Regions from separate parts of the Homo sapiens genome. Here region 2 is linked to region 1. Evidence: fine-mapped expression QTL. A gene starts in region 1. The other region holds a variant in brackets. All regions are shown on one strand. Distances are between the middles of the regions. Region 1 holds the start of CSAD (cysteine sulfinic acid decarboxylase). Region 2 has its middle 34 kb from the start of ZNF740.

Evidence for each region.
Region 2: its variant is fine-mapped to the expression of CSAD in whole blood (TOPMed, PIP above 0.99).

Annotation. Positions count from the first base shown.
Region 1 is chr12:53,179,304-53,182,230 of GRCh38, forward strand. It overlaps CSAD (cysteine sulfinic acid decarboxylase), which reads right to left and starts at 1,622. Exons shown (of 17, transcript NM_001244705.2): 1 at 1,429-1,622. ZNF740 (zinc finger protein 740) reads left to right here and starts at 1,419. Exons shown (of 7, transcript NM_001004304.4): 1 at 1,419-1,534; 2 at 2,374-2,689. The coding sequence starts at 2,681. RefSeq lists an enhancer at 888-1,446 and silencers at 1,109-1,198, 1,489-1,788, 2,142-2,436.
Region 2 is chr12:53,145,721-53,148,647 of GRCh38, forward strand. No RefSeq gene overlaps it. Among named protein-coding and RNA genes, the nearest start is that of ZNF740, 34 kb to the right of the region's middle. The variant C/T (reference allele first, on the strand shown) is at 1,853.

The DNA.
Region 1 (2,927 bases):
TAAAATACACTGTATGGCGCATTACAGGTGCTCAATAAATACTGGTTGAAAAGATTTTTGTATGAACACAGAAAAAAGCCTAAAAGCATATATACCAAACTGGTAAGAATGATTCCCTTCAGGAGCATGGGATAAGTAGAGGGGGAGAATAACCATTTTGTGTCTTTTATACTTTTGCGTTGTGTCGATTTGTAAAATAAGTAGGAGCTAATTTTCAAAAAAGATTTAAAAGACTTATTCCTGGTGATGTTTCTTTATCTCTCTCTTTCTCCATTTTGTCTCTATTTTAGAATGATCCTAAAACACAAAAAACGTACTTTCAATGGCCCAAATCATGGAGTGGCTCAGGGAAATGAAATCTGTCTACAAAAAAAAAAAAGTTGAGAATCCTTGTCTTTTTTTCATCATACAGTTTTTTTTTTCTTTTGGTATCACCATTACTTCTCCTAAAGTCACGACATAATATCACCTACAGCAGAAATGAGGACTTCAGTGGAATTGACATCTCCTTCCATCAAGCGCATTTGCAGTCCATCTTTAGCAGGACCTCTCTCTAATGGCTAAGGCTAGGCAGAAGAATTTGAAGACAGTCTGGTTTCCATTTTCCTAATGCAGCCTGGCCCAAGAGCCAGGACTCCCATAAGACTAGTCTACTGTGGGAGTCAGGGTCTTTTCCACGTGTGGAGGCTAGTGTTTGATGCTGGACGGCCTGGAGTAAAGGGCGAAGGGGAGAAGGTAACCAACCAGGCTGGCCTCGGGATTCGCAGAGGAGGGCTGGGGCTTTGACTTCTGCAGGGAGGTGAGCAGTGTGGCCAAGGGCTACTCAAGGAACGCCTCTGCGAGAATTCAGACTGTGGTTGAGCGCACAAAGCAAGAGTGTGCGAAGAAAAGTTAACGCCTCTCCCAGCTGACCCCAAAATCTGCTAATCTGGGCCTGACGGAAAAAATTCGGAGAAGAACCACCTCGGCCGAGTTACGTGAAAAGGCTGGGTACGAACTACTCTGGCTCTACTTGGGGCGCCGGCTCAGAGCGATGGGCAGGACGTCCGCGAGGAAGAAAGAGTGACGATGATTTTTCAAGGAGTCTGAACCAGCTCACCCAGCAAACCCTCCTCCCATCGAGCACCCAGCGTACAATCATCGAAGGGCCGAGGGTCCTGCCCTCAGTCTCGATGGCGGCCGGGGCGCGCCCCGGCCACGGCGCACGCGCCGGCCTCAGCGCTCCCTCCTCCATGCCCTCGGCGCACGGCGCCGCCCACTCACCCAGCTGCACCTCTCCGTGCGTCCCCAAGCTCACCCGCTCTGAGGCTGCCCCCGCTAGTCTAGCTGCCGAGCCCGGAAGTGGATGCAGCCGCTCGGCGGAGAGGACGAGGGGGAGGGGGAAGTGCTTCCGGGGAAACGGGCCGGGGTTGGTGTTTGTAAACTTGCCTCGGTCCCGGTGGGGGCAGCCGCGGCGGTGGGGTTGGCAGGGTGTGCTGGGGCCTGGAGGAGGCGCCGCGCGGCCAGGGAGCCAGCGGGAGGCCGCGCCTGGCAGGTAGGAGCAAGCCCCAAAGACCGCAGCGTCGTCCGTACAGACGGCAGCGCTTCAGTAGCTCGCAAGCCGTGGGGTGCCGCGCGGGAAGGGGGAGGGGAGGGGAGGAGGGGCGCGTGGCGAAGGGAGGGGGATCTCCGGGGGAGGGAGGGGAAAGGCCGTGCGCGCACACCGCCCCCTGCCCGCGCGTCCCGCCGCGTCCCCGGCCCGGGAGAGGGCTCTCGGAGGGGACGCGGGCGCGAGCACGCATCTCGCGCGCTTCTCGGCACTCTCCGGCTCTGCTCCCGGTTGGTGCAGCGGGTGCAGAGGCTGGCTGGCCGGAGCGAGGCGGGCGACACGCCGCGCCGGGCTTCGCCTGCCTGTCCTCCACCTCCGCAGCAAGTTTCCCTACCTTCGGGCGGACGGGGAGAACGCACACGTGTGGGCACTGCCAGTCCCGTTTCTGCCCGCCACCGAAGCACCCAGCGATGGCCCTTGAGCTTTCCTCCACCCTAGTCTTGCCGCCTCTGTAAAGTGCGAGCTTTTCGGGCCGGCCCACTGGGCACAAAAGCCCCAAAGGGTCTCCGCCCCCTTCTTCCATTCCTGAGATGGCAAATCCAAGCAACTTTCCTTTTGGCAGAGTTCCTCCATAGGAGGCCCCAATTACTTTTGCTCCTGTTGGCTTCCACTCCTTGCCCAGGAGACCAGTTCCTCCTATTGACCTAGAAAGAAAACTCTTCTTGACTCATGTCCTCGTTCTGAGCTTCACAGAGAGCGCCCAGCAAAAAAAAAATTCATATCGCACGTTGTAATGGCCTGAAGATGTTGCATTTAGCAGCCCCCCTCTTCCTTTCTGGTTTCAGGTTTCTGAAACAGATCGTGAGCTTCATCAAGAGAATTCAACTGGAAAACCAAGACTGGTAGACTCTCTTTTTCTTCAGACAATAGGCAGGAGCCAGGCAGAGTCCAGGGATTCTTGGAACACCTATCTTTTCTTCGGAGGACACTAAGTTCTATTTGAAGACAAAGTTCAATATGGCAACAGGACTGATGGGACACGAAGGAGTCGCTACCGTGATTTGGTGACAGTTCTTCAAAACGACAGTGTCTCAAGGAAAGGTGGACCTAGGAACTCCTGAACTTTTGGGTTGCCTTAAGTGAGAAATCAGCATGGCTCAGGTAAAAAGCTCTAGAGTCCTCCTCCAAGATAACTGGGAAGCCTGTTTGCAGTTTCACTCTTGAATGCTGCCTTAGTCAACATATTGACCAACCCCAGTGATCCAAGCTCTGTATTAAGCACCAGGGGGAGATCTAGAGGAAGGAAAGGAGACAGGCCACAGCCCCTGCCTTCAGGGAGCTTCCAGTCAAATGAAGGAGGTAGGCTATACTGCATCACAGGCACTGATGGGACATTTGC
Region 2 (2,927 bases), 34 kb before region 1:
GATTGATGTCCCAGCTCAAGAAGACAGAGAATGTGCCCTTTCCTCACCTTTTTGTTCTATTGAGCCCTCAGTGATTGGATGATGCCTGCACATTGATGAGGACAGATCTTCTTTCCTCAGTACAGCAATTCAAATGCAAGCTCTTCTAGAGACAGCCTCACAGACACACCCAGAAATAATGTCTACCAGCTCTCTAACCTAGGCCAGTTGACATACAACATCAACCGTCACAGGCCAGACATTAGGGCTCATGTCCCTAATCCCAGCACTTTGGGAAGCTGAGGCAGGAGGTTCATTTGAGCCCAGCCTGGCCAACATAGCAAAACACCATCCCAGGCCAGGCGAGGTGGCTCACGCCTGTAATCCCAGCACTTTGGGGGACTGGGGTGGGCAGATCACTTGAAATCAGAAGTTCCAGACCAACCTGGCCAATACAGTGAAACCCCGTCTCTACTAAAACAAAATACAAAAATTAGCCAGGAGTGGTGGCATGCACCTGTAGTCCCAGCCACTTGGGAGGCAGAGGCTGGGGAATTGCTTGAACCCAGGAGGTGGAGGTTGCAGTGAGTCGAGATCATGCCACTGCACTCCAGCCTGGGCAACAGAGCAAGACTCCATCTCAAAAAACAACAACAAAAAAAGAACACATCATCCCTACCAAAAAAAAAAATCAACCATCACAGCAATAAACCTCTCACTAAAATGAACAGGAAGAAAAAAAAGGGAGAAAACACAAATAATTAATATCAGAAATGAAAAAAGTGACAATATAGGTTCTACAGAACTGAAAGGATAATAAGAAAATAAGTTTATGTCAATAAGTGCTGAAACGTAGATGAAATAGACAAATTTCTGGACAGGTTTGGTGGCTCATGCCTGTAATCTCAGCTCTTGGGAGAGTGAAGCGGGAGGATCGCTTAAAGCCAGAAGTTTGAGACCAGTGTGGGCAACAAAGTAAGACCCCATTTCTACAAGAAAAAAAAAATAGCCAGGCTTGAAGCATGCTCCTGTAGTCTCAGTTACTCAGGGAGCTGAGATGGAAGAATTGCCTGAGCCCAGGAGTTTGAGACCAGCCTGGGAGATAGAGTGAGACCCCATCTCAAAAAAAAAAGGAAAGAAAAGAGACTGTTTTTTTTTAACTGCTTCTTGTGGAACAGGGCTACCTCATAGGCAGTGTCCCCAAGACAAATTTCTTTCTTTCTTTTTTTGAAACAGGATCTCACTCTGTCACCTAGGCTGGAGTGCAGTGGCACGATCTCAGCTCACTGCAACCTCTGTTTCCTGGGCTCAAGTAATTCTCCAGCCTCAGCCTCCCATGTGCTGGGATTACAGGCATAAGCCACCAAAGCCTGGCTAGTTATATATACATACACATATATATAGGGGTGTGTGCATATATATATATACACACACACATACACACACATATGTGTATATATACATATACACACCTACACACATATATATGTGTATATATACATATACACACACATATATGTGTATATATACATATACATACATATGTGTATACACATGTATATGTGCACATATGTATACGTATATGCACATATACATACATATATGTATACATATATACACATATATGTGCATGTATGTATACGTATGTGCACATATGTACATGTGTATGCATAAATACATATATGTACATGTGTATACATAAATACACATATATGTACATGCGTGTACATAAATACACATATATGTACATGCGTATACATAAATACACATATATGTACATGTGTATACATATATACACATATATGTACATGCGTATACATATATACACATATGTACATGTGTGTACATAAATACACATATGTACATATGTGTA[C/T]ATAAATACACATATGTACATGTATACATATATACACATGTATGTACATGTATATATATACACATGTATGTATACGTATATACACACATATATGTATATGTATATATACACACATATATGCATATGTATATACACACACATATGTGTATATGTATATATGTATATATACACGTATATATGTATATATACGTATATATGTATACATACACGTATACATGTATATATGTATGTATATATGTGTGTATATATGCATGTATACGTGTGTATGTATATATGTGTATGTATATATACGTATATAGACGTATTATACACATATACGTATATATATACGTGTATATACACGCTTATATACACGCGTATATACACGCGTATATATACACGTATATGTGTGTGTGTGTGTGTGTGTGTGTGTGTGTGTATTTTTTTTTTTGGTAGAGATGACGTTTTACCATGTTGCCCAGGCTGGTCTCAAACTCCTGAGCTCAAAGCAATCCACCCACCTCAGCCTCCCAAAGTTCTGGGATTACAGGCGTGAGCCACCATGCCCGGCTGCCAAAACAAATTTCTTAACAGACAAAAACTACCAAAGTTTACCTAAGAAGAAACAGTCCTGAATAGCCATTATCTTTATTTTTTTTTTTTTTTATTATTTTTCTTTGAGACAGAGTCTTGCCTTTCGCCCAGGCTGGAGTGCAATGGTGCTGTCTCACCTCACCGCAACCTCCGTCTCCCGGGTTCAAGCAATTCTCCTGCCTCAGCCTCCATGGGCCATAATTCTATGAAACTTGTAATGCTAATGCTAAATCAAGGGTTGTGAAAACACTGCCATCTTTATACAAAACCCAACCTCCAGCCGGGTGTGGTGGCTCACACCTGAAATCTCAGCACTTTGGGAGGCCGAGGCGGGCGGATCATCTGAGGTCGGGAGTTCCAGACCAGCCTGACCAACATGGAGAAACCCTGTCTCTACTAAAAATACAAAATTAGCCGGGCATGGTGGCACATGCCTGTAATCCCAGCTACTCAGGAAGGCTGAGGCAGGAGAATCACTTGAACCCGGGAGCTGGAGGTTGCT